Linked DNA regions of Homo sapiens: region 2 is linked to region 1. Evidence: fine-mapped expression QTL. A gene starts in region 1. The other region holds a variant in brackets. All regions are shown on one strand. Distances are between the middles of the regions.

What was found. PIP is the estimated chance that this variant, and not a neighbour inherited with it, causes the effect. A credible set is the group of variants that fine-mapping cannot tell apart.
Region 2: its variant is the best candidate, but not a certain one, in a credible set for the expression of TSSK6 in whole blood (TOPMed, PIP 0.62).

Annotation. Positions count from the first base shown.
Region 1 is chr19:19,513,041-19,518,409 of GRCh38, reverse strand. It overlaps TSSK6 (testis specific serine kinase 6), which reads left to right and starts at 2,862. Exons shown (of 1, transcript NM_032037.4): 1 at 2,862-4,191. The coding sequence starts at 2,983. The coding sequence ends at 3,804. It overlaps NDUFA13 (NADH:ubiquinone oxidoreductase subunit A13), which reads right to left and starts at 2,185. Exons shown (of 5, transcript NM_015965.7): 1 at 2,078-2,185. The coding sequence starts at 2,171. RefSeq lists an enhancer at 2,007-2,286 and a silencer at 2,497-2,616.
Region 2 is chr19:19,288,152-19,293,520 of GRCh38, reverse strand. All of the region lies in intron 8 of SUGP1 (SURP and G-patch domain containing 1), which reads left to right. Among named protein-coding and RNA genes, the nearest start is that of TM6SF2, 18 kb to the right of the region's middle. The variant C/T (reference allele first, on the strand shown) is at 3,085.

The DNA of each region.
Region 1 (5,369 bases):
TACAAAAATTAGCCGGATGTGGTGGCATCCAACTGTACTCCCAGCTACTCGGGAGGCTGAGACAGGAGAATTGCTTGAACCCAGGAGGTGGAGGTTGCAGTGAGCCAAGATCGGGCCACTGCACTCTAGCCTGGGTGACAGAATGAGACTCTGTCTCAAAAAATAAAAAAGAAAGAAAGAAAAGAAAAAAGAAAAATGAGGAAATAGAATGCATTATATTCCTCCAATGTGTTCTGGGACAGCACTCATGGGCCAGATCTAGCCTGAAGCCTCTTTTTTTTTTTTTTAATTTTTGGTAGAGGTGGGGGTCTCACTATGTTGCCCAGGCTGGTCACAAACTCCTGGGCTCAAGCCATCCTCCCGCTTCAGCCTCCCAAAGTGTGGGGATTACAGGCATGAGCCACCTGGCTCACAGGCAATCTGTTTTTGTAGAGCCCCCAGGCTAAGAACACTTTCCATTTGTAAATGGTTGTCTCAGTAACTGAAACTTTCTGGCCAGCCAAACCCAAAATACTTGTCATCTGTCCCTTTTATAGAAAAAGTCTGCCAATCTCAGTTCTGGGATACAAGAAAAACAAGAGGAGGTTGGCCGCGGTGGCTCATGCCTGTAATTCCAGCACTTTGGGAGGCTGAGGCTGGAGGATCACTTGAGCCCAGGAGTTTGAGACCAGCCTGGTCAACATAGCTGCACCCTGTCTCTACAAAAAGTAGAAATAAAAAATAAAAAAACCAAGAAGGGGCTGGGGAGGACTTTTCACCTCACACTGATTTTTCTACTGTCTGAATTATTACGTTTTTAATTACCATGCTCATTTTTGTGTGTGTGTTAAAATTGAGGAATAATGTGCATAACATGTAATTTAAATGTAAAGTTTGATTTGTTAAGAGACATGCATTCTGCCGAGCACGGTAGCTCATGCCGATAGTCCCATCACTTTGGGAAGCCGAGGTGGGTGGATCACTTGAGCCCAGGACTTCGAGACCAGCCTGGGCAAGATGGCGAGATCCCATCTCTATAGAAAATACAGAAAGCTGGGCGCATGCTTGTAATCCCAGCTTCTCAGGAGGCTGGGGTGGGAGGATGGCTTGAGCCCAGGAGGCGGAGGTTGCCAAGAAATCACTCCAGCCCAGGCAACAGAACCATACCGTCTTAAAAAAAAAAAAAGAAATGTATGTATTCACTCTTAGATTACGTTTAAAAGTTTCTATTTGTCTGTTAACCTGGGGACTGAGTATGGGCGCCTTTTAAGTTCTCTTTTTCAATTTTCTGTGCTGAGCCCGATAACAAAATTTAACGTGTTACTTAAACATTTGAAAACTTTACGCCGGGCATGGTGGCTCACGCCTGTAATCCCAGCACTTTGGGAGGCCGAGGTGGGCGGATCATCCGAGGTTGGGAGTTCGAGACCACCCTGACCAACATGGAGAAACCCCGTCTCTACTAAAAACACAAAGTTAGCCAGGCGTTGTGGCACATGCCTGTAATCCCAGCTACTCAGGAGGCTGAGGCAAGAGAATCGCTTGAACCCAGGAGGCGGAGGTTGCGGTGAGCCGAGATGGCGCCATTGCACTCCAGCCTGGGCAACAAGAGCAAAACTCCGTCTCAAAAAAAAAAAATTGAAAATTTAAAGAATATGGATTCCTGTGACACCATGCAGGCGGGGGCTGCCAGCAGGGAACCACTGCATAGAACATCTTGTAAATTCCCTCCAGGTTCCGGGTTGCGGCCTCAGCTTTGCCTTGGGGAGCCGCGGCCTTCTTTGGGCCTCAGTTTCCCCATCTTAGAAATCCAAGGGTGGCTGAGGGCCAGAGCACAGGCTATGACTCAGTTTAACCCACTGTAAAACGTAAATAACTAGAGGGACCGATTTCCTGGGCTGTTACGAGAAGGAAGAGGAGCTGGGAAAGACCTCAACAAACTGCAGCACTTAGCGTTATTACAGAAGCTATGATGGATCCCCGGGCTCCGCCTCCGGTCACACCGCCGGGAAAACTGAGGCCCGCCTGTGTCCCCGGAACCCCGCCCCCGAGCCCCGAGTGCCCAGACTCTGAGACCCCGGCGCAGAGTGATACTGACCCGACAGTCCTCGACGCGGCAAGTTCCGTTTGTAGTCGATGGGCCCATAGCCCCCCGGCGGAGGCATGTCCTGCTTCACCTTTGACGCCGCCATACTCGCAGTATCCCACACTTCCGGTCCCGGGCGGAAGTGACTTACTGCCACCGCCATGATGAGTGTGGCGGAAGCACTTGAGATGGTCCGCGGCACGGCTAGGAAGTCCCGGACAGTAGTGTAACTATCCGACCGCGCGGGAAAGCTCTGGCGGCGGACCCTGGGTAGGAATGCGCTGCCGGGCTGCAGCTGAGGGGTCTTTACTCCTCTTTTGCCCAGACAGGGCGTGACTCGCCTTGGTTCTTGCATTATAGGCCCTCGCGTTCACCTTGCCTCTGGGGTGTTGCGCAGGCCAGTCAGAAACTCCGAGCTCTCAAAGGAGCCAGGTGCCCCAGTTAAGGCCCCTTTTCCCGTTTTCGCCCCGTCTAGGGACTCTACGCGAAGCCCAGGGCTCCACGTAGTCACGGGCTGGGTACATGATGTTGGGGGGCAGCTGCTGCTCGAAGTCGGACTCACCCCAATCCCTGGAACGGATTCTGCTCCCTGGTGGTGATGGGTATCCCTTGCTAGTGGCCTCTCATCGGAAACTGACCATTCAGGATGATTATGAGTCACAAAGCAGGGAGGCTAGGGTGGCCCCGGGGCGGGGTCCCGGACCCCCACCCTAAGGCGGAGTGACGCCCGCAGTCACTTCACAAGGCAAAAATTGTTACGGGGCAATAAAAGGCACAACAGCGGCCAATGTCTGGCAGTGGGCACATGGGGGTGCGGGGGTGTAGGTGCCAAGCGCCATGGCTTAGACCCGAGATTGGAGTCCGGCCGCCCCCCGACAGCAGCCGCCTCCTGCCCCCCGTGCGCCCTAGGCGCCACCATGTCGGGAGACAAACTTCTGAGCGAACTCGGTTATAAGCTGGGCCGCACAATTGGAGAGGGCAGCTACTCCAAGGTGAAGGTGGCCACATCCAAGAAGTACAAGGGTACCGTGGCCATCAAGGTGGTGGACCGGCGGCGAGCGCCCCCGGACTTCGTCAACAAGTTCCTGCCGCGAGAGCTGTCCATCCTGCGGGGCGTGCGACACCCGCACATCGTGCACGTCTTCGAGTTCATCGAGGTGTGCAACGGGAAACTGTACATCGTGATGGAAGCGGCCGCCACCGACCTGCTGCAAGCCGTGCAGCGCAACGGGCGCATCCCCGGAGTTCAGGCGCGCGACCTCTTTGCGCAGATCGCCGGCGCCGTGCGCTACCTGCACGATCATCACCTGGTGCACCGCGACCTCAAGTGCGAAAACGTGCTGCTGAGCCCGGACGAGCGCCGCGTCAAGCTCACCGACTTCGGCTTCGGCCGCCAGGCCCATGGCTACCCAGACCTGAGCACCACCTACTGCGGCTCAGCCGCCTACGCGTCACCCGAGGTGCTCCTGGGCATCCCCTACGACCCCAAGAAGTACGATGTGTGGAGCATGGGCGTCGTGCTCTACGTCATGGTCACCGGGTGCATGCCCTTCGACGACTCGGACATCGCCGGCCTGCCCCGGCGCCAGAAACGCGGCGTGCTCTATCCCGAAGGCCTCGAGCTGTCCGAGCGCTGCAAGGCCCTGATCGCCGAGCTGCTGCAGTTCAGCCCGTCCGCCAGGCCCTCCGCGGGCCAGGTAGCGCGCAACTGCTGGCTGCGCGCCGGGGACTCCGGCTAGAAGCCGGGTGGTTCCAGCCATTCCTGCAGCCAAGGGCACTGGGCCAGGGCGGCGCACGCGCAAGAGGCGCGCTTCGAGGGAATATGCGAAGCTGCCGCGTGCTGCTGCACATGCGCTTTTTCCCTTCCGCTTCCCTCCCTTTCTTCCCACGGGGGAGTCCGCAGTTGCCCTTGTTCGGAATCCACGTTCCCCGCGATCCCGGGAGCTGGAGGCGCATGCGCATCCGCGATTCCCTGCGACCAGGCCCCGAGAGGGCGAGACCAGAGGGGACGGAAGCATTGCGCCTGCGCGGAACTCTCAGCCTCTGCGCGGAGGGCGTCCCTTCCCAACCAGCCGTGGGTGCCAGGTTCCCGGTTGGAACCTGCAATAAACTCGCTGTTCCTCGCACCTGGCTCTAACGGTGGCCCCCATTTGCGGACTAGTGGAGAAGCGATCGCTCCATCCGGGGAAGGCAGGCGCGGGTACCCTATTTTAGAGTCACGCATGTTGAGGTTATTGCTCCAAGACTCAAAAGGGAGTCGGGAGGATTCGAGCCTGGACCTTTTGAGCTCCCCAGTATGGGCAAACTCAAAGGAGCTTTGTTGTCCCCGGGTCGTGATGTCGCTGTGATGATGGGCTGGGAAGCAAGTGGACCCCAGCGCCTCGCCGTCCACATCTTTTAAGAATGGAACAGCCAGGGGTGGGGCGAGGGTGGCCTGTCTCCACGTAAAGTAGGAGTTTATAGATAAGGAAACTGAGGCCCACATGGATGTCACTTGCCAAAAGGCAGAGCCAAGGGCCAGGCGCGGTGGCTCACGCCTGTAACCCCAACACTGCGAGTCCGAAGCGGGCAGATATCTTGAGGTCAGGAGTTCGAAAACAGCCTGGGCATCACAGCCGAGACCTCATCTCTTGTTTGTTTGTTTGTTTGTTTGTTTGTTTTTTGAGACAGAGTCTCGCTCTGTCGCCCAAGCTGGAGTGCAGTGGCACGATCTCGGCTCACTGCAACCTCCGCCTCCCGGGTTCAAGCGATTCTCCCGCCTTAGCCTCCCAAGTAGCTGGGACTACAGGCGCGTGTCCCCCCACCCGGCTAATTTTTGTATTTTTAGTAGAGACGGGGTTTCACCATCTTGGCCAGGCTGGTCTTGAACTCCTGACTTCGTGATCCACCCGCCTCGGCCTCTCAAAGTGTTGGGATTACAGGCGTGAGCCAACGCGCCCTGGACCCTGCCTCTTAAAAAAAAAAAAAAAAAAAAAAAAGGAAAAGAAAAAAGAAAGAAAAAGAAAAACCCCGGGCGCGGTGCTCACGCCTGTAATCCCAGCACTTCGGGAGGCCAAGGCGGGTGGATCACCTGAGGTCAGGAGTTCGAGACCAGCCTGGCCAATATAGTGAAACCCCGTCTCTACTAAAAATACAAAAAAAATTTAGCTGGGCACGGGGGCGGGCGCCTGTAATCTCAGCTACTCGGAGGCTGAGGCGGAAGAATCGCTTGAACCCGGGAGGGGGAGGTTGCAGTGAGCCGAGATCGTGTCACTGCAGTCCACCGTGGGCAACAAGAGCGAAACTCCGTCTCAAAAAACAAACA
Region 2 (5,369 bases), 220 kb after region 1:
CCTCTGCCTCCCGGGTTCAAGCAATTCTCCTGCCTCAGCCTCCCTAGTACCTGGGACTACAGGTGCCCACCACCACGACTGGCCAATTTTTGTGTTTTTGGTAGAGACAGGGTTTCACCATGTTGGCCAGGCTGGTCTCGAACTCCTGACCTCGGGTGATCCGCCTGCCTTGGCCTCCCAAAGTGCTGGGATTACAGGCGTGAGCCACCAGGCCTGTCTGGAAGTTCACTTCTGTTCCTAGTTTATTGAGCGTTTTTATCATGAAAATGTTTTAGTTTTTGTCAGATGCTTTTTCTGCATCAGTTAAAACAGGCCAGGCACGGTGACTCACGCCTGTAATCCCAGCACTTTGGGAGACTGAGGTGGGCAGATTACTTGAGGCCGGGAATTCAAGACCAGCCTGGCCAACATGGTGAAACCCCGTCTCTACCAAAAAAAATTCAAAAATTAGCTGGGTGTGGTGGCACACGCCTGTAATCCCAGCTACTTGGGAGGCTGAAGCAGGAGAATCTCTTGAACCTGGGAGGCAGAGGTTGCAGTGAGCCGAGATTGAGCAACTGCACTCCAGCCTGGGCAACAGAGTGAGACTGAGTCTCAAAAAAAAAAAGTAAATAAATACATAAAATCATCGTGTGGTTACTTTCCTTCATTCTATTAATTTGGTGTATTACATGGATTGATTTTCAAATGTTGAGCCATCCTTGCATTGCGGGGATAAATCCCACTTGGTCATGGTGTATAATCCTTTCATAAGCTGCTGAATTTGGTTTCCTAGTATTTTATTGAGGATTTCTCCATCTGTATTCATAGGAATATTCAATTGTATTTTTCTTTCTTTCTTTTTCTTTTTTTTTGAAATGGAGTTTTGCTCTTTGTTGCCCAGGCTGGAGTGCAGTAGCGCGATCTCAGCTTACTGCAATCTCCACCTCCTGGGTTCAAGCAATTCTTCCACCACCACACCCGGCTAATTTTTGTATTTTTAGTAGAGACAGGGTTTCACCATGTTGGCCAGGCTGGTCTTGAACTCCTGGCCTCAAGTGATCTGCCCATGTTGGCCTCCTAAAGTTCTGGGATTACAGGCGTGAGCCACCACACCTGGCCTATTTTTCTTTCTTTGTAGTATCTTTGTCTGCCTTGGGTATCAGGCTAATCCTAGCCCCATAGAGTAAGTTTAGAAATGTTCTCTCTTTTGTGTTTTTGGAAGAGTTTGAGGAGAATTGGTATTCTTTCTTTTTTTTTTTTTTTTTTGAGACGGAGTCTCACTCTGTCACCCTGGCTGGAGTGCAGTCGTGCAATCTCGGCTCCCTGCAACCTCCACCTCCCAGGTTCAAGCAATTCTCCTACGTCAGCCTCCCGAGTAGCTGGGATTACAGGCACCTGCCACCATACCTGGCTAATTTTTGTATTATTAGTAGAGATGGGGTTTTGCCATGTTGGCCAGGCTGGTCTTGAATGCTTGACCTCAAGTGATCTGCCCACCTCAGCCTCCCAAAGCACTGGGATTACAGGCATGAATCACTGCACGCGGCTTATTTCTTCTTTTAAATGTTTGCTTTACCAGTGAAGCTATCTAATTCTTGGCCCTTTTGTGTGTGTGTGTGTGTGTGTGTGTGTGTGTGTGTGTGTGTGTGACAGAGTCTCACTCTGTCACCCAGGCTGGAGTGCAGTGGCGTGATCTCGGCTCACTGCAAGCTCCGCCTCCCAGGTTCACGCCATTCTTCTGCCTCAGCCTCCTGAGTAGCTAGGACTACAGGCGCCGCCACCAAGCCTGGCTAATTTTTTGTATTTTTTTTTTAGTAGAGACGGGGTTTCACTGTGTTAGCCAGGATGGTCTTGAACTCCTGACCTCGTGATCCACCCGCTTCGGCCTCCCAAATTGCTGGGATTACAGGTGTGAGCCACCGTGCCCAGCCTCTTGGCCTTTTTTTGTTGGAAGGTTTTTTCGAATCCTGATTTACTTGTCTATTCAGATTTTCTATTTCTTCTTGTGTTTTGATGGTTTGTGTTTCTAGGAATTTGTTCACTTCATCTATCTAATTTGTTGGGGCACAGTTTATTGTATTTTCTTATGGTCCTTTTAACTTATGTCTTATTTTCAGTCGTTAGTTACAGCCCCTCCTTCATTTCTGATTTTAGTAATTGAGTCTTCTCTCATTTTTTTCTTAGTTTAACTAAAAGGTTTGTCACTTTTGTTGATCTTTTCAAAGAACCAACTTGTGGTTTCATAGATTTTTCTCCATTGTATTTATAGTCCTCATTTTCTTATCTCCACTCTAAACTTTACTATTTTCTTCTGTTAGCTTTGGATTTAGTTTGATCTTCTTTTTCTAGCTCACTAAGGTGTACGCTTAGGTTATTGGTTTTAGATCTTCTTTCTTTCTTATTTTTTTGTTTGTTTGTTTTTGAGATGGAGTCTCACTCTGTCACCCAGGCTGGAGTGCAGTGGCATGATCTTGTCTCACTGCAACCTCTACCTCCCGGGTTCAAGCAATTCTCCTGCCCCAGCCTCCCGAGTAGCTGGGATTACAGGTGGGCGCCCCCACGCCCAGCTAATTTTTGTATTTTTAGTAGAGACGGGGTTTCACCATGTTGGCCAGGCTGGTCTCGAGCTCCTGACCTTGTGATCCGCCCACCTCAGCCTCCCAAAGTGCTGGGATTACTGGCGTGAGCCACCACACCCAGCCTCTTTCTTTTAAAAATAAATAAATAAATAAATGATTGTTATATATATTAACTGATAGATTAGCTTTGTCAGTAATCTATAATAAACTTCTCTTCAAACCCTACTTTCAGAAATACAGTTTTCCTTAAAAATAAAAATAACAAAACTGTGTATATATAGCAAAGAGTTTTTTTTGTTTTTTGTTTTTTCCCTTTGAGACAGAGTCTTGCTCTTTTATCCGGGCTGGAGTGCAGTGGCACAATCTTGGCTTACTGCAACCTCTGCCTACCAGGTTCAAGTGATTCTCCTGCCTCAGCCTCCCGAGTAGCTGGGATTATAGGTGCCCACCACCATGCCCGGCTAATTTTTATATTTTTAGTAGAGACGGGGTTTTGCCACGTTGGCCAGGCTGGTCTCGCACT[C/T]CTGGCCTCAGATGATCCACTTGCTTCCGCCTCCCAAGTGCTGGGATTACAGGTGTGAGCCACCGTGCCTGACTTAGCAAGAATGTTTGTACATTGATTATCTAAACATTAAAAATAATAACACAAGCACACTCAGTTCTCCTTGTATAGATTTATGTACCATAACCAGTTTCTGCTCCTTCCCTCTCTCCTTGCCCGCAAGAACTTTCAGCCTTCCTCCATCACTTGGGAGCCACAGGAAACTGAAGGGTAATTTCCTAGGGGTCTCCAACTAGTCTCAGTGTGCCACCATCTCTTCCATTCTTCTTGTGTGATGGCGGGTCACATCTGCCAGTCTACCACCTTCTTAAAATTCTAGAAGAGAAGCAGAGCAGAAGTTCATGTTGCTCTTAGATCTCCAGACATAAATTTCCTATCACCCACACCCACCGAGATTAGGGGTTGGGGGCCGAGTACATGGCCCTTATATTCTTCCTAACTCCCTCTTAGTTCCTTGTATTCTTGACTTGAGGGATTTTTTCAGATGAAGAGTCACATAGGGCGACGTATGGGGGAAGGGGCGTGGAGCTTCCATGCCCTCCCTGGGCACGCCACCCTCCAGGAACCTCCATGAGTTCTGCTGTCCGGAACCTCTTTCTTCATTCATTCTTTTTTGTTTTTGTTATTGTTTTTTGTTTTTTGTTTTTTTTGAGGCAGAGTCTCCCTCTGTCGCCCAGGCTGGAGTGCTGTGGCACTATCTCGGCTCATTGCAACCTCTACCTCCCAGGTTCAAGCGATCCTCCTGCCTCAGTCTCCCGAGTAGCTGGGACTACAGGCGCCTGCAACCACACCCTGCTAATTTTTTTGGTTTTAGTAGAGACGAGGTTTCACCAAGTTGGCCAGACTGATCTTGAACTCCTGACCTCAGATGATCCACCTGCCTCAGCCTCCCAAAGTGCTAGGATTACAGGCGTGAGCCACCATGCCCAGCCCACGCCCAGCTAATTTTTGTATTTTTAGTAGAAATGGGATTTCACCATGCAGGCTAGGCTGGTCTCAAACTCCTGACCTCAAGTAATCTCCCCGCCTCGGCCTCCCAAAGTGCTGGGATTACAGGTGTGAGCCACCATGCCCGGCCCTGTATGACACCATTTTGGTCAGTGATGGACTGCATATATGACAGTGGTCATTATTAAAATTGTTATAAGATTATAGTACAGTATTTTTACTGTACCTTTTTTATGTTTAGATACATAAATACTTACTGTGTTACTTTACAGGTTTGTAGCCTGGGAGCAACGGGGTATACAGCTGTCCCTTGAACAACATGGGGGTTGGGACACCAAGCCCTGTGCAGTTGAAAATCTGAATATAGGCCGGGTTTGGTGGCTCACACCTGTAATCCCAGCACTTTGGAAGGCTGAGGTGGACAGATCACAAGGTCAGGAGTCCGAGACCAGCCTGACCAACATGGTGAAACTCTGTCTCTACTAAAAATACAAAAATTAGCCGGGCATGGTGGCACATGCCTGTAATCCCAGCTACTCAGGAGGCTGAGGCAGGAGAATCGCTTGAACTCGGGAGGTGGAGGTTGCAGTGAGCTGAGATCGCGCCACTGCACTCCAGCCCAGGTAACAGAGCAAGACTCCGTCTCACAAAAAAAGAAAAAAAAAGAGAAAATCTGAATATAAACTTTTTTTTTGAGGCAGGGTCTCACTCTGTTTCCCAGGCTGGAGTGCAGTGGTATAATCACAGCTCACTGCAGCCTCAACCTCTTGAGCTCAAGCTATCCTTCCACCTTAGGCTCCCAAGTAGCTTGGGACTATAGCCCTGTACCAGCACGCCTGGCTAATTCTTTAATTTTTTGTAGAGACAGGGTTTCACCACATTGCCCAGGCTGGTTTCAAAACTGAGCTCAAGTGGTCTGCCCACCTCAGCCTCTACATGTAACTTTTGACTCCCCAAAAACTTAACTACTAATAGCCTACTGTTGACCGGAAGCCTTATTGGTAACATAAACAGTTGATTAACATGCTTTTTATATGTTATATGTATTATGTACTATATTCTTATAATAAAATAAGCTAGAAGAAAGAAAATATTACTAAGAAAATCATAGGAAAAATTAGCCAGGCTGTGTGGTGTGCATCTATAGCTCTAGCTACTCAAGAGGCTGAGAGGCAGGAGGAACACGAGTCCAGGAATTTGAGGCTGCAGTGAGCTATGATCGTGGCACTGCACTCCAGCCTAGATGACAGAGGGTCCAAACAGAGCAACCAGACAGACCCTGCCTCTTTATTTTTGAG